Linked DNA regions of Homo sapiens: all the other regions are linked to region 1. A link means that fine-mapping ties the variant in region 1 to the expression of a gene that starts in the linked region. Tissue or cell type: whole blood. Region 1 holds a variant in brackets; each other region holds the start of a gene. Each region is shown on its reference strand, or each on the opposite one. Region 1 overlaps IKZF1 (IKAROS family zinc finger 1). Region 2 holds the start of BCKDK (branched chain keto acid dehydrogenase kinase). Region 3 holds the start of TMEM123 (transmembrane protein 123). Region 4 holds the start of PHF24 (PHD finger protein 24). Region 5 holds the start of CA4 (carbonic anhydrase 4). Region 6 holds the start of GPBAR1 (G protein-coupled bile acid receptor 1). Region 7 holds the start of CRACDL (CRACD like).

Region 1 (4,000 bases):
GGCAGAATTTTGACTGCTTTTGCAATATCTCTGTGCTCTCCAGTTGAACTTGGTGGCAATAAAATTAAGAATCTGCCAGTGCCCCCCAAGCATTTCTACTCTGTCCATAATGTTTAGTGACAATTAACTATTACCAGGTGTAGCCACCCTTACTTAATCTTAGTGTTATGGTGCAAGTAATCCTTAGTGAAATTATTGTTCTGTAGAGAATGCTGTGATCTAAGTGAAGTGACTTTCATCCTGAGATGACAATGGAGTTGTTTTTGTCACTGTAAAGGCTGCATTTACTCGCAGTTTTAAAGCATTATTGCTACTTATATATGGTCTCAACACTGATTTTTATATTTGACTTTGTAGCTTTAAGTGTAAAAATTTCTGTTAAGGTTTTATATGTGTTAGTTAATTTTTCCCATTTCAATAACCATGTTTTATTATTGATGGAGTCTCCTAAAAATATACCCTTAAAATCTGCTTGCCCTGTGCCTGCACACATATTTTAAATGTTGGGTATGGAGTCTTTTTTTTTTTTTTTTTAGACAGAGTTTCACTCTGCAGCCCAGGCTGGAGTGCAGTGGTGTGATCTTGGCTCACTGCAGCCTCCACCTCTTGGGTTCAAGTGATTCTCCTGTCCCAGCCTCCCAAGCAGCTGGGATTACACGCCCGCCACCATGCCCAGCTGATTTTTTGCATTTTTAATAGAGATGGGGTTTCACCACGTTGACCAGGCTGGTCTCGAACTCCTGACTTCAGGTAATCCACCTGCCTCAGCCTCCCAAAGTGCTGGGATTACAGATGTGAGGCACCGTATCCAGGCTGTATGGAGTCTTTCTAATCAGGACATAGGCAGACAGTCCTAGCCCAGCTTTATGCCTTATGAGACGCAACAACGTTGAACAGTCATTGTTTGAGGGACAGAGGTTTTACAGATGGATGATAACTAGCATCTGTGGAACATTATTTGTGAAATATAGAAATCAGAAATTCCAGCGTAGCACTGTCCAAGGGGAACATAATTTGACCTGCATATTTGCTGGTCCATTTTTAGTAGTCACATTAAAAAAGAAAAATGACACAGGTGAAATTAATTTGAATATATTTTCTTAATTCAGTATGCTTAAATATTATTTAAGTATGTACTCAATATAAGCAATTGTTAATGAAATATTTTACTCTTTTTGAACTATGTGTTTGAAACCCCGGATGTATTTTTTTTTTATCTTCACCACACATTTCAATTTGGGTTGGTCACATTTCAAGTGCTCAGGAGTCACATGCAGCTAGGGGTTACCTATTGGACAGGCAGGCAGATCTTGAGAGCTCCAAAGAACTGTGTGTCATTATATTGTGGAAAAAAAAAAAACTTTTTAGATTAACCCTTGTTGAATGTTAGCCAAAGACTAGTCATTTATCAACTCTCTAAAAGTAGTTTTTAAATCAATTTGCTTTTCAAAACATTTTCTCAGTGTTGTCACAAATGTATGTGAACATCTGCTTTTTAAGTCTTTCATTTTTTGCCCACATTTGATGTAAAGAAAATCTAGGTCCAGTCCAATTTTAACATCAATTGGGTTTATTTTATGTAGCTGTGTTTTAAGTACAGGTCTTGTACTTGTAGGCATTTTGGTTAAGTACAAAGTAACGAGAATACAACAACATGTGAACATGTCAAACAAATCAGTTTTTCAAAGCTAAGTAGCTGAATTAAATGTAGAAAAACATGACATTTAATTTTTGTCTTCATCCCTTCATTGTATTCCCATGTACTCTATGGTAACTTTTTTAAGTTGGGAAGTCCTCTTTAAATTTTTGAAATGAGGTAGCTGCTTTATAGACATGAGGCAGGTTCCCAGAGAGCGCCCTTGAGGACAGGCTGTAAGTAAACTAAGCTGCAAAGACAGACACCATCACAACTATGGAATTGTTTTGCAAAAATTGTGGAGAGTGATGCCCCTTGATACTTCCTAAAAGATGCTTTTGCAACCTGAT[A/G]AAGCAACCGAGGAGAGGTGGTGAAGGAAAGGCTTTTTTTTTTTTTTTTCAAAGAGAGAAAGAGAAGCAGCAAGCTGCCTGCCTGCAGCCTGAGAAAGCAGTTCCACCTTGGCACCCATGTCCTCATAGCCCAAGCGGGGCCACCCTGGCATGTGAATCTGCTCCGCAGTGTGCAGCCCAGACCCCAGCCTTCCTGTGAAAGGGACACCTCCTGCTGCTAACCGCTGCTCTTCCTGCAGTTCAGGAGACAGCGTGTGCTCCTGTGGCGGCTGCATTTCCTGAGTACACCATGATCCAAAAAGGCACAGATTCGTCATGGAAGCTTTGATTGGGCCGTTACTGTCTTTTGACCTTTCTTGTTTGCTTGCCCTTTTGTTTCTTTCCTCCTTTTTCCTTCCTTCCTGTCTTTCTTCTTCCTTCCTTCCTTTCTTCCTTTTTCTTTTTAATTTTCCTCCTTTCTCTTTCTCCTTTCTTTCCTTCCTTCTTTCCTCTTTTTTTCTTTCCTCCCTCCCTCCCTTTCTTTCTTCCTTCCTTTCTTTCTTCCCTCCTTCCCTCCCCACCCTCCCTCCCTTCCCCTCGTCTCCCTTCCCCTCGTCTCCCTTCCCCTCCCCTCCCTCCCTCCCTTCCTCCTTTTTCTTTCCCTTTCCTCCTTCCTTCCTTCCTCTCTTCTTTTCTCCATCCCTTTCTTCCTTTTAACATTTGATCATGGGTACCATTTCATCAAGATTCTGTTACTTAGGTCCAAGGACTAGTGACCAAATTGTTTTTCCCAGGAGTAAACTTTTCTACAAGACATAGAGAAATGACTGCCAGTGCCATCAGGCACACCATCCTGTGTGATAGGTAACCTAAAATAATGGTACAGCGGGGAGTAACTGGAAGAGTCACAACTACACAAATCTCTTGCATTTTCCTGATCATTAAATGAATTAGGGATTTCCTGGTTTGAGATTTGTGGACAAGGAGAACTACTTCTTTGTACAAGAGGCTTGTGCCAGGAGAAGACACGCTGTGGTTACAATGTTACTGTCTCTAGCTATGGTCATTTCATGTCTTTAACTGAGTGTACCTAGAGTGTAATACAGTGCAGCAGTGATGGGCTGAAGGCCTAATGCACCAGCACACATGCCTGGAAGACCTAACGTTGAGAATCCGCATTTTTTTCATCACTCACATTTATTTTGCATCTCCCTGTTTTGATTACCTTCAGAGACCCAAGCACTTGCTTTTGTATATTTGAGTCTGGGTTTTATTTTCCTTTTAGAAATAGTCCAAAATCCTTTTAGAGCCTAGACCTTTGAATAAAGTGCTAACTTAACCTGAGGAATGCTGTTTTTTTGTTCACAAATAAGGCTTAATTGTGAAGTCGTGAGAATTGCTTTCTGAGCTGACTTATAAATTTACCCACCTCTTTTTCCCCAAACCCCCAAAAAATCCTCCAGAAGGTGAGCCCAGCTTGTTGTAAAAGATTTTGAAGCAGAAGTCCTGGGTTTAAGCTTCAGTTCTCTGCCTTACCAGAATCGGGATGTGTGGGGCAGGCCTACCTCCTCTTTCTTCATCTGCAAAATACATTGAATGAAATCATATTTTTTCCTAAGTATATGACATGTAAAGTGGTATTTCAAAAACTCATTAATCTGCATGACCAGGTCAGAAAAGACACACCTTTTGCCTTGTGTCTAGTGTGTGACTGTCCTCACATGTAGATGACCCAGGCCACATCCGCTGATGTTGTCTTCCTTTACTTCTTTGTCCCTTCCAATGACTCCTTTATGAAGTCAATCAGCAGTGTTTCTAAGCCAGGTTCCTTCTCTTCACACATCCCCAACCCACAGGGCAAGTCATCCACATTTTGCCTCTCTATTTTTTGTGCTTTGGGAAACACATTTTACAACTTCCAAACTATTTGCCTAAGTTCATCTGAGCACATCTAGAATTATTCCACTCCTCTGCATCAGTGCTAAAAGTACAATCATGTATAAGCTGTTATACTCCCGTTATTTTGTACCTCATG
Region 2 (4,073 bases), not on the chromosome of region 1:
GAGTGCATTGGCACGATCTTGGCTCACTGCAACCTCCGCCTCCCGGGTTCAAGCGATTCTTCTGCCTCAGCCTCCCGAGTAGCAGGGATTACAGGTGCATGCCACCACATCCGGCTAATTTTTGTATTTTTAGTAAAGACAGAGTTTCACCATATTGGCCAGGCTGGTCTCGAACTCCTGACCTCAGGTCATCTGCCCGCCTTGGCCTCCCAAAGTGCTGGGATTACAAGCATGAGCCACTGCACCTGGCTAACCTCCAAGTTTAAAGACAGCCGCCAGGCCCAGTGGCTCACTCCTGTAACCCCAACAACTCAGGAGGCTGAGGCCAGGAATTTGAGACCAGCCTGGGCAACATAGCGAGACCCCGGCTCTAAGAAAAATAGGCCAGGCACGGTGGGTTACGTCTGTAATCCCAGCACTTTGGGAGGCTGTGGCAAAAGGATTGCCTGAGGGGGAAAAAATCACCCTGGGGGTAGTGGTGCACACTTACAGTCTCGGCTACTTGAGAGGCTGAGGTGGGAGGATCATTTAAGTCGGAGGCTGCAGTGAGCTACTATGGAGCGACTGTATTACAGCTTGAGCAACAGAGCGAGACCCCATCTCCAAATAAATAAATAAAGATAGCCTCCAAAGATGTCACTTGCTTCACTTAGCACTTTTTATTGAACATATTTAGGAAATATATAACCATGGTAAAGAAAATTGCAATTAGTACAAATACACACTACACACATATGCACGTGCACACACTGAAACGTGTCCCTTCCAGCGCCTCCTGCCTGGATAATTTTTTTTTTTTTTGCAACGGAGTTTTGCTCTTGTTGCCCAGGATGGAGAGCAGTGGCGGGATATCGGCTCACTGCAACCTCCTCCTCCCGGGTTCGAGCGATTCTCCTGCCTCAGCCTCGCGAGTAGCTGGGATTACAGGCGCCAGCCACAACACCCGGCTGATTTTTGTATTTTTAGTAGAGACGGGGTTTTGCCAAGTTGGCCAGGCTGGTCTGGAACTCCTGAGATCCGCCCACCTCGTCCTCTCAAAGTGCTGGGATTACAGGCCTGAGCCACTGCGCCTGGCCTAAAGTAATTGTCTTCTTATTGGTTTCTCTGCCTTTGGTCTCACCAAACGCCCCACTCTAAATCACTGCAGACAAGGGGTTCTGTCTAAGGAGGAGAGCCCACCAGTTAAAACCCTTCAGTAGTTCCTAACTACCCTAGGACAAATGCAGACTTATCCTTCGCTCTCTGCTGCCGCCCCTCTCCTTCCCAGATCCCATATGGCTCCAGCCATATCCTCAGACCATCTGGGCTGTTGTCTGTCCTGCCACACACCCTTCCCACCCCGCTCCCTTGCAAGTCCTACTCAGGCTGCACCTACACAGCTGTCTCAGTTTCTATCTGAGGCTCCCGCAGCCTCCTCTGAAAGTCCTCATCACAGCCAATGATACTGAAACTGTTTTCTTATGCAGGGCACGGAAAGATCTATTCAACTCACTGCCCAATCTCCTCTCCTGGTGCAGAAAAGACACCCAGTCAGCGACTTGCATTATCTGCAGGCATGAGTGAATAATAATAATGCCTAACCCTTATATAGTGCTAATTCCACGCCTGGCACTGTTCTAGGCACTCATATAAATTCATGTAATCCACACAACCCCAAAACTGATGATATCTCTTCATCTTACCAAGCACTGAGCAGTTAAATAACTTGCTCCAGATATTAAGGGGTCGAGCTGGGGTTTGAAGCCTGGTTACCCATAAATGAACCAAGAACTGGAAGGAGGACAAGAGCTCCGAGAAGGAGTCAGGTAGGGCGTGATCTGTGCGCTTTACATCTAAGATCTTCCAGCTCCCAGGGAGCCCGTTTCATAGAGCAGGAGATAGAGGCTGGGAGGGACACGGAGAGCCTCGAGAGCCGTGTGGAGGAAGCGGTGCTGTTTGGGGTCCGGGAGCAAGGGCGTGGCCTGGATGCGCGGGCGCCCGGGACGGCACGTCCTCAGACCAAACTACAACTCCCAGGACCCAGCGGGCGCTGCCGCCCACGCGACGTCACGGCGGCGGAGGGCGCAGGCGGCTGGGCGCCTGGCGAGTGGACTGTTCGAGCCCTTCCGCTGGGACCCGGGCCCTGGCTCCGGCCCCGCGGTAAGTGGGGCGACCCCAGCCTACTCAGTCCGCGGAGGCCCCGCGGCGCACGTCCGCAGCCTCCATCACAGCGCGGGCGCGCAGACGGGGCTGGCATCTACCATATGGGGGGCATCCGGGCCGAACCAAGTGACCCGCGTGGGGGGTCCCGCTGGGGACTCCGTGCCGCACCCTCCCAAGCCGGCCCCAGGGGCCCAGGGCTGGTGTCGCACGTTCGCTGGCCGCGCTCCCAGGGCCCGGGTTTGAAGGCGCTGGGCAGGCAGGGGCAGCCCCGCCCCCTGAGAAGGGTACCCGGGACCCCGGGGCGCTGGGGCGAGGTTTTCGGGCTGGAAGGGTCTGAGGGGCTCCTCCCCCGACAGCCCTCCCACCGCCAGTAGAGCCTCGGGTTGGGGAATAGAAGCCCCCGGGAGGCTAGGTCCTTTGGGCGCGGCCTGTGTGCATCTGGGGAGACGGTGGGAGTGGTGGGGAGAGGTCGCCCGGGTCTGGGGAGACCGATGCACAGGTGGAGAGATGGTGCGGGTTCTGTGGATTCGGATCCTTACAACTTCCTCTTCCCCGCCCCGGTAGATGGGAGCTGCTCTCCGCGGGCTGAGCCTGTCAGCATCCTCGACGCACCCTGGTCCCTGAAGTCGGAGAAGAGCCCCTACCCACCCACACCCCCTTGCCCCATTTTGGGTCGCCTGGGTCCTCAGTCCTAGCGGATCCTCAGTCCTAGCGGCCACCGGGTCTGAAAGGAGCAAGACGATGATCCTGGCGTCGGTGCTGAGGAGCGGTCCCGGGGGCGGGCTTCCGCTCCGGCCCCTCCTGGGACCCGCACTCGCGCTCCGGGCCCGCTCGACGTCGGCCACCGACACACACCACGTGGAGATGGCTCGGGAGCGCTCCAAGACCGTCACCTCCTTTTACAACCAGTCGGCCATCGACGCGGCAGCGGAGAAGGTGCGCAAGGGGGCAGCCAGCCCAGGGTCCGGGATGTAGGCGGGAGGGAGAGTGTTGGGGGTTCTCTGCTCAAGGCCTCTCTCCCTCTCTAGCCCTCAGTCCGCCTAACGCCCACCATGATGCTCTACGCTGGCCGCTCTCAGGACGGCAGCCACCTTCTGGTAAGATTCACGCCCTCTATTTTCCTCGTGGATCCTGGAGCTCTCCCAGACACTCAGGCTCCAGCCCCGCCTTCCCTTCTCATTTTCTCCCAGAAAAGTGCTCGGTACCTGCAGCAAGAACTTCCAGTGAGGATTGCTCACCGCATCAAGGGCTTCCGCTGCCTTCCTTTCATCATTGGCTGCAACCCCACCATACTGCACGTGGTAAGGTAGAGAGGACCTTAGGTCAGCGGGCCACCCTGCCCCGGGGGCAAGTGGGGAGTCTGGGGCCCAGAGTGGCAGACGATTGCTTGCCTAAAGGTGTCAGGGCCACACAGGATTCAACCCCAGGCCTTCAGAAGCCAAAGGTGTGTATTCACGGAGCCTGGAAGGGTCGAAGTGGGGGTTTGATCACGTGGTCGACCAGCTGGGTGGTGATCCCCATGGGTAGGTGGGGGTGGCTGTTCTCTGCTCAGTGCCCATGCGGCTTTGTGAATTCCCACACCTCTTCCTTGCAGCATGAGCTATATATCCGTGCCTTCCAGAAGCTGACAGACTTCCCTCCGGTGAGTGCTGGGCCAGAGCAGGGTGAGGGGCTGAGAGGTTGGGCTTGGACCACCCTTCCTCATGACTCTGTGACCTGCAGATCAAGGACCAGGCGGACGAGGCCCAGTACTGCCAGCTGGTGCGACAGCTGCTGGATGACCACAAGGATGTGGTGACCCTCTTGGCAGAGGGCCTACGTGAGAGCCGGAAGCACATAGAGGTTGGGGCAGCAAAGGAGAGGCCGGGCCTGCTGGGGGTGGGAAGGGCACGGGATTCTGAGACCTCACTCTTTACAGGATGAAAAGCTCG
Region 3 (4,076 bases), not on the chromosome of region 1:
CTTTTCAGTTACAAGTCAAAAAAGTCCCTTCTTTCCACAGTTGTTCAAGGTGGGTTTCTGTCACTTGCCACTAAGAGTAATGACTAACAGCCGCCCCTCCCATCCTGTTAATGTTAATGTCATTCATTGGAATACTACAATAAATCCTGTTTGCTGATTTGCAAACTTGCTCATAGTCTCCCTCCTCCTTCAACTGATATTTATAAAGCTATGCAGCTGACTGTGAAGAATATTTTAAAAGCAGAATTTCAATAATGTTTTTATCTTCTCCCACAATATTCTAGGCAATGGTAATACTGTGGAATAAAAGTATTATCTACTTCAAGAGCCATCATCATCTAACGCGGCTTAGTGGTGAAATGGTTAATTGAAAATTTGGATTTTGATCTGAAACCAAACATGTATTAATTGTTTTACTTGCCATAAATTAGCTTACTTATCTATAAAATGGGGACGATACTGTGAGGATTCAATGGGATGATTTATGGACCTAAATTAGCATAGCGTGGGATGCACAGAATATGTACCCAGTAAAAATCAGCCATTAAGAGTTTTAGTATGATGGCTAAAAATCACTATACTTCGTAATGACATTGTATACAGATTACACTATACATGAAGACTACGATTAACAGTTACTAGCTTTTTTGAGAAATCTTCTATTGTATACCTTTTAGTCTAGTTGCAAGGTGACATTATATAGTCTGTAGAAACAGATTCCACCTCTGGTTGGTTATACTAGTTTATGAATTCAGGGCTCGCCTACTGTAGAGCATTTCAAGTTTTGCAAATGGGACTAACCTCTAGTAAGACATTAAGTAATAAACAGAACAAACAGTGCTAAAATAGGGCAAAAAAAATCTGTGTTATCAGGGCAAAAGAAAGAAAAGCATGGTCACTCACAGTTTCTCTAATCGGTAATTCATTGAAACAGTAAGGCTTATCTTCACAAACACAGCAACAAATTTTTAAAAATGGAGACCTCACCTCATGAGATAATTGGTATAAAATTAGGACCAAGATACACGATGGACATGATTTTACCACTTTTTTTCTTAAATGATCTCAAAATTAGGTCTGCGAAGCCAGTTTGTCACACGCACAATTAAGCAAACAAAAAAACTTCAGCAAAACAAAGAAAAATTGTTAATTCACCCAGGTTATTCCAGAAAAAGCAAGTGTTGTGCCTGAACCTTCCAGATTTACAAACTGCCTTTTTCTTTTGCTGGATAAAACGAACCTAAGGCTAACATATACAGTGGATGGATAGAACTTAAAACCATGAAAACCTTGGGTTACTTAACTTATCCTAGTTTACTGACCATTACCTAGGGACCTGACTTCTCTAACAGTTGACAAAGGAAAACAGTATTTACACAACAAATCCCAACTTCCTGGTTTCATCCAAAAAGGGCTGTTTGAAGTCTCCAAAGGGCCAAGGGCCTAAAACGAAACAAATTCCGCCCTACACAGAAAAGCAAAGTCAACATCATCCTGTTACGACCTTACTAGCGACGACAAGGGCCACCGGCGACCGTGCAGCTGTGCCCTTAACGCTGCGCAGCTGCCGCGCGCCTCGGCCGGGTGTTTATGGCACACGAGGGGTGGAGAGCGCCCCGCCATGGGGGCGGCCGCCTCAACTACCGCGAGGGCGGGGCGCGCTCCCCAAAAGCTCCCAACTAGCTCCAAGAGCCCCGAAGTCTAACTTCGAGCGTCAGGGGGACCTAAAGATTGTAATTCATCTGGATAATACTGCATAATATTAGACGCTGAAATGCCTGGGGGACGCTTGAAAAGCTCCCCGACTAACTGGGAGACGTTTCCGCGGGCCTAGGTAGACATATTTTTCAACTCAGCTAATCTTGTTTACAAACGGAAGCCTTAGAAACTCTAACCTCGGCAAACATTAACTTCAGGGAAAGGCTGTAAAAACCAACTTGCGGTAACTCAACAGGTTATGCGCACCCGTCCCGGCCTGCGACCGCCGCATCCAAAAAGCGAGAGGGGAAGCACCAGGCAATTTCCTCAGCAGGCGGCCCCGGGGCCAGCGGGTGACTGGTCCAAACCTCAGTTTCCCCCACCCCGCCCGGTCACCTCTGGGTCCGCCCCGAGCGTTCGGCCAGACACACGCGGAACTTTCTGTACCAGAGCCCAACTTGGGAACCCAAGCCTCGGCAGCGCGCTGCCTCCCACGAACGGGGCTGACGACCCCCGCAGCCACTTACCCGCCATGGCTGCGCTTTCATGGGCGGCCCCCAGCAGCGCTAGCACCTGCAGCGTCCCCAGGAGCAGCGCGGCCCAAGCACCTCGCGCGCCGAGTCCCATTGTTCCGAGGGCAGGATGCGGCAGCCTCGTGGGCTCCCAGCCGAGGTGGCGGCGGCGAGAGCGGCTCCTCTGCGCAGCCGGCGCCGGCTCCGCTTCCCCTTCGGCCGCGCACGTTTCCCCTCCCGCCGCTTGCCCCCCGAATGACCAAATAGGGCGCAGGAGCGGGGCCTGGAGGGGGCGTCGCGTGCGCAGCCGGGGCGGCGGGGCCGGGCTGGGTGGCGCGGGGGCGGGCTCGGGGTTCTGGGCGTGGCGACTCGGCTCGCGGCCTCCCTCGCAGGCGCGCGCTTGGGAACCCCAGAAACCGCGAGCCGTTTCCTTTCTCTTCGGAAATGGCAGTTTTGTTGTCCTGGATGAAGGCGAGCGCCGCTGCCTCCCTGAATGCTGAGCACGCTGGCTTCGCGGTGCCCGGAAGGAAGCCTTTGAAGAGTAGTTTTGCGGGCAGGGAGGGGACAGGGGTGCGTGCGACTCAGAGTGAGAGGGAGGAGTTGCAGGGCAAAGGCGGGAGGAGGGGGAGATTCTGGAGAGGAACTTGAGGGGATGGGATTCACTCTAAGGAGTCCTGGGCGGTCGGAGCTTTCCCCTCGCGTGACCCAGCCTAAGGGGGAAGTGGAGAAAAACAGCTCGACAGATTTGTTGCTTAAATTCAAACGTAAAACACCTACGATCTTCTTATCCCAGTTGTACTTCATCTTCTCCACGGGTTCCCTGTATCTCTGATTAAGACACGAGATTAGTGGAGTGGGCGGGTGGGGGCGCGCGCAGGAGTTGGTAGCAACTCTCAGTGAAATACAGTAGAGCCATGGAAAGCGGGGGCTGCATTAATCCAACCAGCCTTTTCTCTCCTTGTGCCCTGCTGTCCCAGTTCAGATGAAATGGCCAGTTTTGAACAGTTTTTGGCTGAGTTCCTTTTAAACCCTTGGAGCCAATGCTAATCACTTGTCTTGACTTGAAGTGCTTGTAAAGTCTGCATTTTCATCGTGCTCAGAACTCTGAAGTGACATAGCTACCTGTGGCTAATGCATGAGAATAACAAAGGCTGAGTCCTGGCTTGGGTGGGAACCCTCAGCTGAAGTAGAAGACTGAAGGATCCAAGGAACCTAAAATCACAGTGAATCCCCACCTGCAAAGGTCTTAATGTTGCAGATCTTTGGCACCTGAGCCAGATTTCATCACATAAAGGCCACATTGCAGTTAACTTTTGAAAACTGTGTTATGAGAGGTAGAACTTTCTCATGTCAGGCAAATCCATCATTACAGAGGTCTGACTGGTCCTAGAGATTAACTGAGACAATCTGTCCTAAATTTACAGAGACTTCCATCTGTGGATTCAGTCAGCCAACCTGCAAATGTTTCCCCTGCAGCTTATCATGGACAAAAAGCAAGCATTGCACATTTCGATTTTGGTTATTCTATTTAACTGGGGAATCTGGTTTAGGAATAAACCGTTCTGGTGACTACCCCATTATCCAAGCATTTCCCAATCTAGGCCCAACCTGTCTTTCCAGCCTTGGTTCTGTTGCCCATGGAGAAGGGTGCTTTCTGGTTCCTGGCATTTGCATACGTTGTTCTTTCCTTCTGGAATTCTCTTCACCAACCCACAGCTAATACTTCCTTTAAGGCTCAGTGTACTTATAGCCTGGGAATCTGGGGTGGAATAAGAGGTCTGGATGTTTATATCCCCACCACATTCATGTGTTGAAACCTAATCCTCAAGGTGATGATAATAAGATGTGGGACTTGGGTGGGCATAG
Region 4 (4,076 bases), not on the chromosome of region 1:
TGGCTAATTGTTGTGTTTTTAGTAGAGGTGGGGTTTCACTATGTTGGCCAGGCTGGTCTCGACCTCAGGTGACTCACCTGCCTCGGCCTCCCAAAGTGCTGGAATTACAGGCGTGAGCCACCACGCCTGGCCACAATATAAATTTTTTTGAATGAAGGAAGGAATTAACCGACAGAGATTTATATGATGATGTTACAACCTCCTTTTCCATATAAGCCCATCAGACAGCCTAGAAATAAAACACTTACTAAAAACAGTTCAGAGAAGTCTATCTGTGAAACTGTCGGTATGATGTAATTCTAAAGAAAGTTAGGGGGGGACCCCCAGACTATATGGAAGGCTCAGTCTGCTTTTTAGTGCTAGTTTCACAACAAGCAAAATAACCATAGTGTCTCTTGAGAAATAAGCACTAATTTTAGAACTAATAAGTACTAATTTTAGAACTCCATATATTAATGGTTTATAGCCTCTCCTTTCTCAGTGGCAGGACTGAGAAATAGGAGCTTGCGGTATGAAATCAGAATACCTGAATTTCAGTCTCACCTCCATCACATATTAGCCATGTGACCTTGGGCGAGTTGTTTAACCTCTCTTTGCCTCAGTTTCATCACTGGCAAAATGTCGAAACTAACAGTAGACTCCCTCAAAGGGATGGTGTGAAAATTAATGACAACATATTTAAACCATTTAGAATAGTACCTGGCACTTCGTGTTTTAAAGTGATAGAAATATACCATACTTGCCTTATATCCTCTATTGGTAAATTCCATGTTAAGGGCAAAATTTCTTTTTTATATCGCACCAGGGTACCTAGCACAGTATGTAACAAATACTAGACGCTCAAAAAAATGACATGCATTATATTTGAGGTAAATAAATTGAATGCACAAGAAAATAAAGGTATTTTAAAAATGTAAGTGCAATTAATATAAATTAAAGGGCTCTCGACATATCATTTGCATATCTTCAATTTTTCCTTATAATTAGTTGCTGGCTATCTTACGATTTTATCTTTTTCTTGCCCTCTTCAAAGCATGTAGTTTGGTGTAATGCACATTATAGCCCTCAGAATTGCTGGCCTTCTGACAAGCTAGCTGTTTGGATATTGTGAGGGATGAGGTTGCTGCAGCAAAAAGTGGGTTACACGACAGCACAGCCTCGCTGCTGGAGATGAAAAACCAATAATCCCAGAAAACAGCGCATAGGGTAGGCTGGGCCAGCCGAGGATTATGTGAAGGTTCGTTGGGACCCTCCGGAGGCCAGTGGGGTACTGCAAAGGTGAGTGCCCCAGTGCCAGGGGTCGTGAGCCCGGAGCCCTGCGGGGGACGGCTGGTAGGCCCTGCTGGATGAGTCATTCTCCCCACCCCGGGCACGTGCTGGTGGCGGCATCCACCCGGACCCCGCCTTCCCCCCACCCAACCCCCGGCGCGGAACGCGAGCGGTGAGCGGCCCCAGCGCCCCCAAGGCGCCCCCTCCGGGCCGCCTCCTCCGGGCGGGCACTGTCCTTGCCGCAGTCGGCCGCTGGCGCAGTCCCCGCGCCGCAGTGCCGGGCGCTCGTGGGGGGCGCCCACGGGCACCTGGGCCGTCTGCTCATCGGAGCCGTCCGCCGTCCTCCCGCATTCCCACGGCGCCCCACGCCCGCGCGCCCGTCGCCGGTCACCCGCCGCCCGCGGAGCCGCGAGGGCGTCTCCTGGAGGCGCAAGAGGACTGGGCGGGGCGGGGCGCGCCCACCGGCCGGCCCAGGGCACCTCGCGCGGGTGCACACGCCGCAGCCCCCCGGGGCGGGTGGGTGTGCTCCGGCCGCGCGCGCCGCCGCCGCCGCCGCCGCCGCCGCCGCCTCCTCAGCCTGCCGCTCCGCCCGCGCCGCCTGCTGCCGGCGCTCGGCCCAGCACGCCGGCTCTCGGGCTGCCGTGGGCTGCGCGGGGCCCGCGGTGTGTAGAGTCCGCCGCCCCGGAGCCGCGTCCCGCACCCGGACGGTCCCGGTAAGCGGGGGCGGGGGCGGCGGGGACCGGGCCGTCACCTGAGGGGCGGGTCTGCGGCCGCGGACAGTCCTCCGGGACTCTGAGGTGCTTGTGTGGGAGCCGCCTCCAAGGTGGCCCCCCTGTGTCATTGGATGAACCCCAAGTAGCTGCTGCCTCTACGCCTTGGGGGAGTCCCTGAGGTGCTGTGGGGAGCCGCCCCCATAAAGACCCCCTGTGGGAATGGACTCCCGCGGCGCTGTCTGCATTTGCTGCCATAGGGAGCCCCAGCGTGGAGGGGACTGGCCCCAGAGAGCCCTTCTGTGTCACTGTGGGAGCAGGCACAAGGGTGGTCTCTGGAGCTGGCTCAATGGAAGACCACCTGGGAACATAGGGGAGCCGCAGGAACCTCGAGGTGGTGGAGCCCCCAGAGGGCTCCCTAGAAAAGGAGGACCTGAGACTGTGCCCTAGAACTGTGGGAAGCAACCTCTGACTGGGGAGGGGGATCCTCCCATGGGATCCATGAGTGACTTCCCACGGCTCCAAGGACTTTGGCCTCCACCGGGATCCCTGTAGGGTTCCATGTGCCCTTACTTGTATCCCCACACCGTGGCCCAGAGGTGGGGGCCTTCTAGGGCTGCAGCCTCTTTCCATTCCTCCTCTTTCCCCATTCGGATTTTTCTTCTCCATGGTAGCCCAGTTGCTCCACGCTGCATTTTAGTGGAGACAGAAACTGCTGCGAGAGCACAGGGCCCTAAGCCGAGGATGAGGACCAGTGAGGCCTCTAAAGCAAAGATAGGAGATTTGAGCCCCTAGGTTTGACCGTGCGGAAGGAAGCAGTAAGATCAGGTGGAATAACTGACTTTGGCAGGTCCTGGAGGGAAAGGCCTTTGAAGGAAGGAATAAAGGATGTATGGGATTGTTGAGCACCAGTACGCTAGGCAGTATACTAGGTATGTTTAAACATCTCATATAACTCTTACAACAGCTTTGTGAAATTATCCCCTTTTAAACATTGAGACTCAGAGAGGTTTAGCAATTTGCCCAAGGTCACAAAGCTGATGAAAAACATAATCATAAAATGTTTTTCAAATTTTATTTGGGAAAAAGTACTAAGGAGCAGCAGAAGAAAGAATAGATATTTGTTAATAAGTTGCATTAAGGTGCCTGCCGAGCATAGGGTTTTGCAGTGGTACAAGCTCAGTAAATGTGATGATTAAATAAGTGGATGAGGACAGTTTAACTGGCCATGAGATTGCTGCAGGAACTGATTTCCACAGAATCCCCAGATTTCAGGGTGTGGCTTCCTTCACTGGCAGTCCCACTGTCATGATGCCTTGGGGTGGCTCTGGACCTAATTGAGGCCTCTGGGTGTGGTTTTTGACAGGGCTTTCTCTGGGGATCTAGGGGGACCCTTCTGCGGATGGAGTGTCCCAAGACCACCCTACCTGCTACCGAATACTCGAAGGAGAGAAAGGAGAGACAGGATCACTTTTAGGAAGCACGATCCACACTGTCCTTGTGACCCTCTGACTACATGCACCGGTGGACAATGGTCCACAGATAGCACTCAGGACACTTTTGCCCAAGAGTGCCTCTGCATGAGGAGGAGGAGGACAGGAAAGGTGCAGAGCCAAGGAAGGCTCACTGGGAGTCTGTTAGGGGGAGCGCAAAGGGTCTGCGCCAGACATAGTGTTGCCTCCTCATCTCGCCCCCTCGTTGTTTTCATTCTAGCTGAATCCCAAGAGTTCAACTTTGAGCTCCAAGGATGGATTCTGGTTTCTTGTCCAAAAACGGAGTGGTGAGAGGGCCAAGCAATGATATTCATTAGAGCCATTCTGGAAGGGTTTTCCTGCTCCCCTTCCCTGCTTTCTTCCACACAGTCAAACCTAGTTAAATCCTCCTTGAACAGAAGTGGCTTCCTTTGGCTCCTGGAATTACATAGTGAGGAGAGAGACCAAGCTAGTGGGAAAACAGAACAACATAGTTTACCAGTTGTTAGATTTTTTTTCTTTTAACTCAGTGATGCTACCTTGCGCGCAACTCAGTGGAGTAAAGCCCGACAAAGGTTTTTGTTGGTTAGGACCTCCCCATTGTAAAGTTGTTTATAATCCCCCT
Region 5 (4,076 bases), not on the chromosome of region 1:
AGGGACTCGTTCTCCTCACCCATCTTTATGGTCCCAAAATGCACCCAGGGCCCCCCTCTCTCCTGGGGGGCCTGAATGCAATGAACTTTAAAGTGGATCATTGATCAACAGTCCCTTAACCCCACCAAAGTTTCCCAAGCCTCTCCCCTGCTCATCAGGGGGCTGGCCAGAGGTCACAGGGACTCCCTGGGGGTGGTTTTTATTCCCAGGAACAGGCTTCCTCAGTCCTGAAAGGGACATTTTTATAGCCCTGTGAACACAAATGCACTCCCCAGAATAGGCTCTGGGTGTGGAATCCCTCCTGTGGCTGTCATGGTCGCAGGCTGGTGATTACATTATACAGTGGTGTTGACAATAGAGCCCTAAGCCTGGCATGGACACCCCCTCACCTCCCTCCTGCCTCTCTGTAGGATCAAAGCTGCTCTGTGAGGCTGTGTGATCCTGGGCCAGGAGCGGGGAGTCAGCCTCAACCCTAAGCAAGGAGGAAGCATCTTTGCCTGAATCCTTCTGGGGGAGGCAATCCCCCTTCAGAAGTCCCTAGCCCAGGTTCGAAGGTCGGTAGGGACTGAGAGGTTGGCAGCGGATGGGGAGTGGCTAAACCAGAAAAAGGGGGCTTCCTGTTGATGGATTGATGGAGGAGGTCCAGGTCCACTGCCTGGTTCCCCGTCCCTCTCCCGCACCCCAGCCTGAGCTTCCCAAACTCCCACAGAAGCCCCCACCCCATGTGGGACACAGAGGACCTGCAGTAGCAGGAGGGCACAGCTAAGAGAGGAGACAAGAGGCAGCTTGGGGGCATGGGGGGGACCCCATTTCCCCAAATGTTGGAGCCGCCCTTAAGGGAACTTCCCCTGGACTCCTCTGGAGGTCTTGCCAGATGGGAGAACCAGGGGTCCATTCAGACCCCAGTCTCTTCTCTTCCCATCTCATCTCTCCACCTGGGGGGCTCAAAGAACCTAGCTCCTCCCCTTTGACCCCATCAGCTTCTCCCTCACCGAATCCTCTTACAATCCATTTCTTAATTCTGCCCCATCAACCCTCCCTGGTCATCACATAAACACCAGCAAGGGCAGTAGTTTAGGGACAGCTTTGCTCTGTATTCGAAGAAAGGTCTTTGGTCTGCTTAGAAATTAAGTTTGGAGCAGCCTGGGAGGAAATAGAAGAGATGAGACCCAGAGAATCAATGGCCACTGCCAAAGAGAGATAGGAGAGCCTTTCTGCGGCCACTGATTCAACAAACGGCATCACACGCCCCTCAGCCTCTCATCTCTTCGAGGCCATCTCCACCCCCACCCCCACCCCCACCCCAAGGCCATTCCAAGGTCCCATTCAAGACCACTGCGCAGGGGTGGCGCCAGAATGATCAAAGTCATCATGGGGCACTCATCTTTGTGTGGGTCAAGCACTTTGTGGTGTCGTGTCCCTGTTCCCAAACCAGGGACCAGGAGTAGGATGGGGGAGGGGCAGGGCGCCGCTGCTGAGTGGAGAGGACGCGGAGTGGGTGAGGGGGCCTTGCGCACAGGGCAAGAGGTGGCCAGGCAGGGCGGGGGACCGGGGAGAGCGGAGGATTTCAGATGAGGGACAGGGGAAGGTGGAGAGGGGAGGGCAGGCCCCGCCAGGGGGAGGAGCCGCCTCCCGCGTCCAGCTGTCGGGGCTCCCTCCCGTCGCGGCTCCGCTATAAAACCCAGGCCGGCAGGATCGCTGCACCCGCGGCGGCCTCCTCGGTGCGCGACCCCCGGCTCAGAGGACTCTTTGCTGTCCCGCAAGATGCGGATGCTGCTGGCGCTCCTGGCCCTCTCCGCGGCGCGGCCATCGGCCAGTGCAGGTGAGCTCCCGGGCTCCGGCCCCAGGTGCCCCTCGGCGGTCCCCTCCGTGCCCCCAGCTCCCGCCCCTGCAGAGGATCCCCCCGCGGGCGACCGGTGAGCGTCGGTGGCGCTGGGGTCCCGGGTTGCGTGTGCGCCGGGGGCCGCGAGGGTGCGGGAGGACTGGGCAGCGCGCGAGCTTGTGTGTGCACACGCGTGTCAGCACCGGCTGGGGGAGCGTGTGCACGGGTGTGCGCGGTGAGGGTGTGTGCGCGTGGCCCGGCGAGACGAGTTGGGAGTCCCTGATAAGGATGCGTCTCAGGCCGGGCGCGGGTGCTCCAGCCTGAAATGCCAGCACGTTGGGAGGCAGAGGCGGGTGGATCACCTGAGCCCAGGAGTTCGAGACCAGCATGGCCAACATGGTGAAATCCCATCTCTACCAAAAATACAAACATTAGCCGGACGTGGTGGCACACGCCTGTAATCCCAGCTACTCGGGAGGCTGAGGCCCGAGAATCGCTTGAACCCAGGAGGTGGAGGTTGCAGTGAGATCACGCCACTGCACTCCAGCCTGGTGCTCCGTTTAAAAAAAAAAAAAAAAAAAAAAAAAAAAAAAAAAAAGGATGCTTCTCGGACCCGCCTCAACGCACGCCTTCTTTTCTCACCCAGCCTCCTCCGTCTGCCCGTGGGTTTCCGTCCGTCCCGCTGGGACTCAGCGCTGGGTGACTGCCCCGCGGCCAGAGCAAGGGCGGTCTGGCAGGGTCCTGGAAGCCGCGCTTCCCACACGGGTTCCTTGCCCCTGAGGGTCGCAAGCTCCCCTGGCCTCCCTAACCTCCAGCGCTGAATTGGGAGCCTGGCGGGGGCGGGGGGTGGGGGACCCGGAGCCCCAAGGCCTCTGCGGAGCCGGTCTTTCCGGACAGGGTGATTTTCGTTTAAAGATTAATGGTGAAGCCGAGCTCTTAATTATTCCTCTAGGTGGGAGGTGGCAGGAAAGGCATGTTAATATTTGATAAGAAGCTAAAGGCGCTTCAAGCGGCTGGGCACAGGGATCCGATCCTGGAGGCACCTTCTTTGCAACCCCAGACCCCATCACCGGAAGACCCCCTCTGCCAGTTCTCAGCCCAACCACCCCTCGGATGGTTCTTGGGGTCCACGCAGGCTGAAACCTCCTCTCCCAAGTTAGGTGCTCCATCCTCAAAGCGGCGGAGTGAGGGGTGAAGGTGTCCTCTGCACAGAGAGGAGCCAGCGTGTGCCCTTTGCAGCAGGGACTGGCTGAGCTGTCTTAGAGGGTCGAGGGGCACCTTGCAGCCTCTCCACCGGGCCCCTGGGAGAAGAAAGAGAAAAAGCAGAATGTGGAAACTTTTATTTGTAGGGTTGGACATTGGAAACCTACTAAGCAGCTAGAAAGTAGAAAGAGAAATGCTTTGCAGTTCTGGTGCTTTGTAGCTGTGTGGTCTTGGGTAAGTCACTTCCTGTCCCATTTGCAAAACAGGTGTTGTCATTCTGACTTCAGGGGTTTTAAGCGTTTGAATAAGATAATGGGTTTAAGTGATTAGTGCGGTGCCTGTGTGGCACGTGGCTGGTGTGTCATATACCAAGTTTATGGGGCTCTCCCCCAAGCCTGGGGCCAGTGTCAGGAATGTGTCTCAGCTCACCCCTCACACAAGCTGCTATCCCCTTTAGTGCCAAGGCTTTCTGACTGGGACCTGCCTTCCATTCATCTTATGGAGGACTCAAGCTGAGAAGGGACCAGGTTGCATATGGCGACCCCCAGAGCATCTCTGTCCATTGAGACAAGAGGCCGGGTGAGGATATTTGGTCCCCTTCAGAGCCCCAGACCCCTGGCCGGGAGCGACTGAGACTTTGCCCAGGAAACACTTGGGTTGTGCTGAGCTGTTTTTCAGGATTATCCCCTGTCCCTCAGAGGGGGAGGTGGGGTGAGCAAGGTCCATTAGAGAGGCTTCTTCAGCCATCTTGAAATAAGGGGGAGGGGTGGCAGGTCAGTCAGTGTGGGGGGCAGTAGCTGGGTGACAGGCGACTGACTTTCGGTCTCTAACCTCTGGTCAGGGTGGATGGACTAGGTAGGATGTGGCGCTGGACACCGAGACCTCTGGGTAGGTAGCCCCTCTCCTTCCCAAGCCCTCTTGGGAGTGGCCTGAGTCAGTGGGCTGGTACTTACCTGCAAGGGTGGCCCTCTCATTCAACGAAGACAGGAACCTGAGTGGTGGGTGCTCCTGCCACCAGCACCCCACCCTCATCCACCGACATGGACCTGAC
Region 6 (4,076 bases), not on the chromosome of region 1:
GCTAAGAGAATGGAAGCGGACAAAGGAGGCACAGGAGGATTCCATGCCAGAGTCTGAATTGGTCACCCCCATTCAGGCTCTGCCTGAGGAAAGGAGAATGGGGTCCGGGCACAGTCAGCTGGATGGAGCGTCTGAAGACGGCTTGCACCAGAGCCCTCCGTGGCTGAAGGGAGAAGCTAGGGGGTGAGTCAGCCCCAGGGCTTGATGGAACAGACAGGAACTAGATGATCTAGGAAGGGAGAAATGAGGCTGAGCAGGAGACAGCCCAGGCTCCCTGGCTGCCACTACCTAATCTGTCCCCCTTCACACACATCCCACACACAGTGTTTAGACAGAGCAGCAGAGAAGAAACAGACATCCTGGATCCCACAGGGAGCAGGCTGGGGCTGGGAACAGGAGGTCTGTTTATTCCTGGAAGTCACATATCAGAAGGGTCCCACACCCACTTCTGTCCAGGCCCCAGGCTGAACTCTCCCAGAGCCTGTGACTTCTGCCCGACCAGATCCCGTGGTTCTGAGGACCGGCCCTGGAACCCTGCGTCCTTCCGACCCACCAGCTCCCTCGAGGATGGACTTGAGGCTGGATGCTTTCCTCTTCCCACTTTTTGTCCCAACAGAAGTCCCTGATCTCCAGGATCCCTGACTGGCTGTGCAGAGCTGGCACAGCCACACTCCACGGGCTTCCAGCCCTTCAGGCCCAGCTCTCCCGGAGAGCACCAGAGTCCCTTTGCTCCATTTACTTGCGCTCTTCAGCCAGCAAGTGTTTCCTAATGTCTCACCCCCAGTCCCAGCTTTCCTGCTGCAATTTCCGCCTGTTCCCTCCCATTTCAGGCCTTAAGGGAGTGTGGCTGGGCTTCTCTCCTCCCCCTCACTCCAAAGCCGCACTTGATACAAGGTGGAAATCAAAGCACCACTTCTGGCTTCCCAGCCTTGAACTTGCCCTTCCCTCTCAATGTATCTGGTTTCCTCAGCTTCCCTGTGCAGCAAGAGTGTCACTCCCCTCTTGCTTTTCCCAAGCTCCCCATGCGCCCCTCTCAGCAGATCTGTCTTAGAGGGGCCAGGTGCAGAGAAAGGCAGAAATCCTAATAATGTTCCCAGCGATCGCTGCCTGTCGCGGAGTGCTGAAGGGCCAAGTGTTGATCTGAGTCCTCATCACACGGGACTTCATTTAGTCTCACGATAGGTGAGTACAACTATGGGCCCCATTTGACAGATGAGGAAACTAAGGCAAGGGAACTTTAGTCATTTGCCCAAGTTCACTGGCTTTTTTAAAAAAGGATCCAGACAGCTCTGATTCCAGCGCCAGCTCATGCCTCTTCATCATGGGGGAGGAAAGAGAGGGAGCCATTTGTTGGGGCAAACCCCCACCCATCAAGGGCCATGCACTGGGGTATATGCCGCCATATGTGTTATCCTGTGATATTCCCCACCACGACCTTAATTAGAGGTGGTTTTTCTTGTTCCCATTTTAACACAGGCAAAAACCGAGGCCCAGTAGTACCTTACCCATGGTCACATCCCCAGAGCCATTTGTCCCTCATAGTTCAGAACTTGACTCAGAAAGCAGTTGAGAAAAGTGTGGAATGACCCCAGATTCAGGAAGGCAAGTCTGGCCTTAGAAACTGAAAGGCCCATCAGGTGATGGGATGGGGGAGTGAAGATCCTCAGGCCCCAAACACCTGCCACTGCCACCATCACACACGGAAGTGTGGAGGGAGCCTGGTGTGCTGTCAGCTGGCTGGCCAGTCCAGGGGCTTAAATGTAAATGCATCAGCTGAGGCGGGAAGTCGGGAGGGGTAAGTCAATCATTATTATTCATTAACTGGAATGCATTTCTCAGATTACTCCGAGCTGGAGTAGGGAAACTGCCACCTAGGTGGCAGGGGGAGAGGGGAACTGGGTGGGAGGGGGAGGCAGGCCTCCCAGTTGCTGCAGTTTGGAATATGTCAGGTCCCACCCTCCCAGAGGCGGGGCCAGGGCTGAGTCCTGCCAGCCTCATTTCTCTATCCCTCTGAGAACCCAGACGGGCAGAGCCTGGGTAGGAGAGCCTGGCCCCGCTGTCCCCACTGGGTGGAGACACCATGCACTTGGTCCACTTGTGCTCTTCAGCCAGGACACCAGACATGGTCCAAACCGCTGCAGGGCTGGCTGCAGCAACTCCCTGACACTCAGGAAGGCCCAGGCTGGGCAGGCAATACCTGCTCCCAACAGCCATGTGAGTAGCTACTCCCCCAAACCCCCAAACCCCAGATCCTGGAGAGGCTACTACACCCAGCCCAAGCCACCAGACCCTCGGGGGTGTGCAGGTGGTACAGCCTGCACCCTGCTGGGAAATCACCCCTGGGGGCTGCTCCCTGCCTTTGTCGCTGTTCTAGTGGAGGTGGGTTGGGGGGAATCATTCCGATTAGGGCTGGGAGCTCCAGCTCAGGCCAGGTTTGGGGTAATGGACCCTGAGTCTCACGGGACTTAAGAGAGTTGATGATGCCCTGGGAAAGGGAACAGAAACTGCAAGGCCTCTAGAGAGGAAAAGACATCCTGGGTGGAGGGCACTGGAAGAGATTGAGAAAGAGAAAACATGCTTAGGGGAGGGGAAAGGGGGCATAAGGCCTTGGAGGCCCAGGCTCAGGGTGCTGGGGGAACCTGGGAAGGAAGGGGAGCATCTTCCTTCCTCTCAGCTCAGGGCAGCCATGGGGCCCTGATCCCCTGTCCTGGAGGAGGGGAGAGGTATGAATCCTTTCCTTATTGACTTGGATCCTAGCAACAGCAGCTGCTCCCCTGTTGACAGAAGCAGGAGTTCCCACAGGACCCAGGACCCCTCCCCCTGTCCCCAGGATGTGGCAGCAGAGCCATGACACTGGAGGACTGAGACCAGGGAATGACGGGAAGGACAGGGACAGATGAGAGCCACAGAGAAGCCAGACTCTGCCCAGACTCCTCTTCCCTCTCCTCTGGGCTCAGCCTCAGGCCTGGGGGTGTGGGGGAGTCCCTCTCCTTGCTGCTGGCATCTCCACGTTCACTGCCACACGTGCCCTCCAGCTGCTTCTCTCCTCCCTCCAGCTCCCAGGAAGGACCCTGTTGCTAGTGTGGAGCAAAGACGAGTCAAGTTTATGGGCTGGAAGTCCTACCCGGAGGCTGCTCACTGAGCTGTGATGGCTACAAGGACAGATGGGGGGAAGGGTGCAGGGTGCCCGAGACCTGGCCCGCTGGAGCCTGTCACCTAATGGCTGGCTGGAAGACCACTACACACCAGCCAGCCCTGGTCCATTCTCTCATTTAGAGGCCTCCCCGGTGGAGGCAGGGATACACAAAATGCTTTGGGGCTGGATGGGCCCGCCTTTCAGTCTAAACAAGAGACCTCAACACAGCTGCCCAGAAAAGGCAGATACCAGAAATGGATAAAGCTGGCTGGGTGGGGACTGTCCGAAGGGCAGCCAGCAGTGAGCTCCGGCTGGTTGCTACCACACAGGACATATGTGTTGCCAGACCTGAATTTTCAATAGAAACCAAAGATAGTTTTTTATATAAATGTTTAATTGGCAATTAATTGAAAAATTCTGTGTATCAGCGAACATGATACAGCCCACAGCCTGCGGGTCTGCGCCCCTGGATTAACATGCTGCCCTGCCAGGAGGACACGACCTGCAGCCCCATCCTAACTCTGGCCACCCCATCCTGCAGGCATGCCGGCTGCCGCTCCAGGACTCCCCTGTCCCCAGGACCAAGATGACGCCCAACAGCACTGGCGAGGTGCCCAGCCCCATTCCCAAGGGGGCTTTGGGGCTCTCCCTGGCCCTGGCAAGCCTCATCATCACCGCGAACCTGCTCCTAGCCCTGGGCATCGCCTGGGACCGCCGCCTGCGCAGCCCACCTGCTGGCTGCTTCTTCCTGAGCCTACTGCTGGCTGGGCTGCTCACGGGTCTGGCATTGCCCACATTGCCAGGGCTGTGGAACCAGAGTCGCCGGGGTTACTGGTCCTGCCTCCTCGTCTACTTGGCTCCCAACTTCTCCTTCCTCTCCCTGCTTGCCAACCTCTTGCTGGTGCACGGGGAGCGCTACATGGCAGTCCTGAGGCCACTC
Region 7 (4,076 bases), not on the chromosome of region 1:
TTTTTTTTTTTTTTTTGAGACTGAGCCTCACTCTGCTGCCCAGGCTGGAGTGCAGTGGTGCCATCTCAGCTCACTGCAACCTCTACGTCCCTGGTTCAAGCAATTCCCCTGCCTCGGCCTCCCGAGTAGCTGGATTACAGGCGCCACACCTGGCTATTTTTGTTTTGTATTTTTAGTAGAGTCAGGGCTTCACCACGTTGGCCAGACTGGTCACGAACTCCTGACCTCAGGCAATCCACCTGCCTCGGCCTCCCAAAGTGCTGGGATTACAAGTGTGAGCCATCGCGCCCAGCCAAGATTCATCTTAACTAGCCTAAGAGGGCCAAGCAGAGCAGTGATCTCAGCAGGACAGCCACCCGTTAGTGAGCCCCACATGACGCATCCTATGCAGCAGCTGAGCTGCGCAGCATCCATGGATGGTACACTTTATTTTATAAGTGAGGAAACAGATGCTTAGAGAGTAAGAACTTGACTCGTGGAGGAGGTCCAGAATCAGACTCAGGCAAGCCAGGTACTCACTACAGGCACAAAATTTAAGGGGGTACCAAAAATGCAGTCAGATAAATGCCTTATTACAATATTTTAAAACATCAAAACAAATACAAAAATCCCTAATGTACAAAATCTCACATTTTTAAATAAAGACAGGATCAGTGTTCCTGATTTTTCCTGTTGCCTCAGACTCCAAGATGGCACAGCATAGGGGCAGAGCCCAGAAACCAGCCCAGCTCAACCTTCTCCACCAGCTCCACACGACACTGTCTCTAGATATCTTTCTCCTCACAATTTTATAACCTCAATAGGTTCTTAGGATGACCACAGTGCTCCATCATTCCAGGTGTGCGCCCGTGGGACCGAGCTCCAGGGAAAATACCAGGGGTCTACACAGATTCTAGTCTATGGTATATGCAAATGAAGGAAGCCTGCAGGCTCCAATAACCTAGTAGGATACCTTAAGACCAGTTTGGGAAGGTGTGAGCTGGCTCTAAAAGGGTAACACAGCTGCCTGTCTTCCACTTGGATTTCCTGGCTCAAAACTGTCAACAGGACCTGATGCCTGCAGGCGGTTTGCACCTACACGGAGTCAAATTCACACAGCCGCACTGCTTCTGACTTGCATTTCAAAAGCAAGTGACTATTATGCTCTGATCACATGTGAACTTCATACCGAATCTTTGCCTATGATGAAGCTTCTGTTCAACAAATATTTGTTGATTAAAAATGTGAACACTTCTTAGATCAACTCCAGAATCCCTCCCGGGTGGCGTGTAATCAAAGCCTAAAACCTGTTAAATAAACCATCACCTAAAGCATAAGGCAGTTCGTGAATGTGTCCACTCCTTTCCCCTGCAACTGCGTGTGGAGACAGTGGGCATAAAGACCTCGTATGCTAGCAATTTCAACCGAGCAGGACCTTCTCTCCCTCCTCTTTCATTTTCCTGGCGCGTAAACTGCTGGATTTGCCTCACAGTGGAAAGTTGGGTCCAGCAAAGTGAGCAAAGGGAAACTTTGGGCACTTGCACGAGCGCGTCCGGCTCCCCCTCGGCCGCAGGAGCTGCCCAGGGCTTCGGCGGCGGGGGTGGCGCCTCTCCGGGTCCGAGGGGCCCCTGGCTTCACGGCCTCTGCCCTCGACCCCCTAGCCCCGGCCCGCCCCACCTCCGCCCGGTGCCCCCGCGCCCACCCCGCCTTCGACCCACGCCTGCCTTGGGACACGCGATTTCAAACCCCTCGAGGTACCTGGGACAGGAGCGTGGCCCGGGCTCGGCGAGACGCGCAGAGAAGGGCACCTTCCGCGGGGTGCGGCGAGCCGGGGCTGCTCCCGCCGCGGTGCGCGTCTAGCCCCAGCCCAAAGCCGGGGCGACGCAGCAGGTGGCCGCGCGGCCTCCAGACAGCCCGGGTCTGCGGCCGAAGAGCTGGACGCGGGCGCTGACACTACCCTCCCGCGGCCGGCCCGGCCCTGCGCCCGGCGCGCTCCCAGCTCCCAGCTCCCAGCTGCAGGCGCGCCGGCTTCGCTCGGCTCCGCTCGGCTCGGCGGGGGCGGACGCCGCTCAGCTCCCCTCGCCGGCCGCCGCGCGCACCTCCCCCGCGGCGCACAGCTCCCAACGCCGCCTCCGCAGCTGGCCCGGCGGAGTGGGGCCGAGACCTCGGGGCGGGGGGCGCAGGCGCCGGCCTGGGCCTTGGACGCCCCGCGGGAGGCGGGAGGGCGATCGGGGTGCGGGGAGGGCAATCGGGGTGCGGGCCCGGCTGCCCAGCGCTCCCTCCCAAGCCCGCGCCGCTCCCGACCCGCCTCGGCCTGTCCGCGCAGCGGCGCTGTCGGGGCTCCGGGAGGGCCGGGGGGCACCGGAGACCCGGAGGTGGTGGCAAGTCAGTCCGGGACTGGCCCAGGGCACCCGCGCGCGTCGGTGAGAGGGACCCGGGACTCCAGGTGACCTCCGGATCCGCCCTCTAAGTCAGTGGCCTGCGGCGGGCGTGGGCGCCGAGGGAAGGAAGTGTGCATTTGAATAAAAGTAAAAGTTTGTTATTGTTGTTGTTTTATAACCCTGTGGGTCCTGAGCGTCTCCAGGCTAATTAGGGAAGCTGCCGCCCCGTCTGGAGGTGATTCATGGGTGTGACACCGGCGAGTGTGGGAAGAAAGGCAGCTGATGCCGTCTCAGCTGCGCTCGCCTTTCTTTATTTTCTTTCTTTCTTCTTTTTTTAAAATCCTTTTTCTTGTAAAGACAGGGCTGGTCCATTTAGGGAGACCGCGCACGGAGGGAGCTGCCTTGGGTGGTCGCCCAGCGAATCTCCTCCGGAGCCCGAGCCGCGGCTTTGGTCTGCGGATGGCACAGCCCGGCGACCCCGTCCCGGCCTCTTCCCCGGCGGTGCACGCCCAGGGCCAGGCAGGCGAGAGGCGCGGGAGTCGCGTCCCAGCAGGGAGCCCAGGCTGCGACGAGTCCTCAGGGGACGCCTTCAACCCAGGCTGGAAGAGATGATACTAACGTCAGACGGGGAGTCTCGGGTGTCACCGGACGCCAGAATGAGCGGCGAGGTCCGCATTGTTTGGAGGGGATCACGCGGAATCCGCGCTACTCCGCGGGACGCTGGGTCCGACGGCTAGCGCCGCGCACACTGGAGGCCTGGAAAAGCCGAGCTGCTCGGCTGTCGGAGGCCGAGAGGGCCTGGACCCCGGAAGGAGCTCTCTCCACCTGTGGCTTTCAAGGGGCTCAAAATCCCAGATAGAAGAATCGAGCGAAACGAGGCCCAAGACAGTTTCCCATTTACTTGGGCATATCAAACGAAGTTTCCTTTTTGAATTTTTAATGTTATCCCTTGGCCACAAGCTATTCACGTAAAAGCCTCTTTTGATGGTTAAGTGCTTTAAGTTCCCTGTATAAAAAGAACAAAAATAGTGATTCAGCCTTATAACCCCCCCCCAAATTAATAACCTGCATTCACAATGAATGGGTGACTCATGACAATCAGAGACAACGAGTTTGTTGGGTGTCTGTGTGTTTGTTTTTTTCAAAATCCTCAAACTAAACTGAACAACTGCAAAAACTATACTCCCCTCTCTCCTCTCCCACCTTGAGCCTCTGCTCCTTGCTCTTCAAAATCATGTTAGTTTTTGCCGCTGTAACTACTAAATATTTATGGACTCCATAAACTGCCTTTCTACCTAAGAATTTCGTTTCCAGAATATCTTAAACCTCTGGCTTTATTTGTATTCTGTGGGTGGCTTTTGAAGTTCCTGGAGGTTTTCAGAAGACAAAAACCGAGGTTCCTGGTGATTAGTTAAGGCCGAGAACATGGTGTCAACACTCAAAATAGAAACTGGTGGGGAATTTTGTGAATAGGTTGGGAAAATGGAAAATTATCTGGAGCCTGGTAGAGCAAGCACCTTCATGCTTTAAAAATGTGGAAAGAAACTGTGCCCCTCCCCTACCCCTGGGACTTTCATCTTCCTGTGAGAGCTCTGGTTCCCAGGGCCCTGCCAAGTGGCTGGCAGTCAAGGAGGCTCTTCCCCTCCTTAATGCCTTTTGGATCAAGCCTTGAAGCCAGGTTAAGAAAAGACTAAAATGTTCAAGTAAGGATTTGTC

What was found. PIP is the estimated chance that this variant, and not a neighbour inherited with it, causes the effect.
Region 2: it holds the start of BCKDK, and the variant in region 1 is fine-mapped to the expression of BCKDK in whole blood (TOPMed, PIP 0.99).
Region 3: TMEM123 starts here. The variant in region 1 is fine-mapped to the expression of TMEM123 in whole blood (TOPMed, PIP 0.97).
Region 4: it holds the start of PHF24, and the variant in region 1 is the best candidate, but not a certain one, in a credible set for the expression of PHF24 in whole blood (TOPMed, PIP 0.90).
Region 5: it holds the start of CA4, and the variant in region 1 is fine-mapped to the expression of CA4 in whole blood (TOPMed, PIP above 0.99).
Region 6: it holds the start of GPBAR1, and the variant in region 1 is fine-mapped to the expression of GPBAR1 in whole blood (TOPMed, PIP 0.95).
Region 7: it holds the start of CRACDL, and the variant in region 1 is fine-mapped to the expression of CRACDL in whole blood (TOPMed, PIP 0.98).

The regions. Positions count from the first base shown.
Region 1 is chr7:50,340,629-50,344,628 of GRCh38, forward strand. All of the region lies in intron 3 of IKZF1 (IKAROS family zinc finger 1), which reads left to right. Among named protein-coding and RNA genes, the nearest start is that of IKZF1, 38 kb to the left of the region's middle. The variant A/G (reference allele first, on the strand shown) is at 1,987.
Region 2 is chr16:31,106,341-31,110,413 of GRCh38, forward strand. BCKDK (branched chain keto acid dehydrogenase kinase) reads left to right here and starts at 2,046. Exons shown (of 12, transcript NM_005881.4): 1 at 2,046-2,139; 2 at 2,707-3,078; 3 at 3,171-3,239; 4 at 3,333-3,443; 5 at 3,737-3,784; 6 at 3,865-3,984; 7 at 4,061-4,073. The coding sequence starts at 2,884. RefSeq lists enhancers at 1-162, 1,770-2,663, 2,664-3,556 and a silencer at 1,899-2,438.
Region 3 is chr11:102,450,299-102,454,374 of GRCh38, forward strand. It overlaps TMEM123 (transmembrane protein 123), which reads right to left and starts at 2,467. Exons shown (of 5, transcript NM_052932.3): 1 at 2,226-2,467. The coding sequence starts at 2,325. It overlaps TMEM123-DT (TMEM123 divergent transcript), which reads left to right and starts at 2,621. Exons shown (of 2, transcript NR_135053.1): 1 at 2,621-2,751. RefSeq lists enhancers at 1,471-1,520, 1,701-1,990, 2,721-2,830 and a silencer at 2,311-2,600.
Region 4 is chr9:34,956,420-34,960,495 of GRCh38, forward strand. It overlaps PHF24 (PHD finger protein 24), which reads left to right and starts at 1,866. Exons shown (of 8, transcript NM_015297.3): 1 at 1,866-1,982. RefSeq lists an enhancer at 425-564 and a silencer at 1,914-1,993.
Region 5 is chr17:60,148,271-60,152,346 of GRCh38, forward strand. It overlaps CA4 (carbonic anhydrase 4), which reads left to right and starts at 1,703. Exons shown (of 8, transcript NM_000717.5): 1 at 1,703-1,822. The coding sequence starts at 1,765.
Region 6 is chr2:218,259,003-218,263,078 of GRCh38, forward strand. It overlaps GPBAR1 (G protein-coupled bile acid receptor 1), which reads left to right and starts at 2,013. Exons shown (of 2, transcript NM_170699.3): 1 at 2,013-2,214; 2 at 3,678-4,076. The coding sequence starts at 3,723. RefSeq lists an enhancer at 2,460-3,265.
Region 7 is chr2:98,934,201-98,938,276 of GRCh38, forward strand. CRACDL (CRACD like) reads right to left here and starts at 2,025. Exons shown (of 10, transcript NM_207362.3): 1 at 1,738-2,025. RefSeq lists a silencer at 1,192-1,392.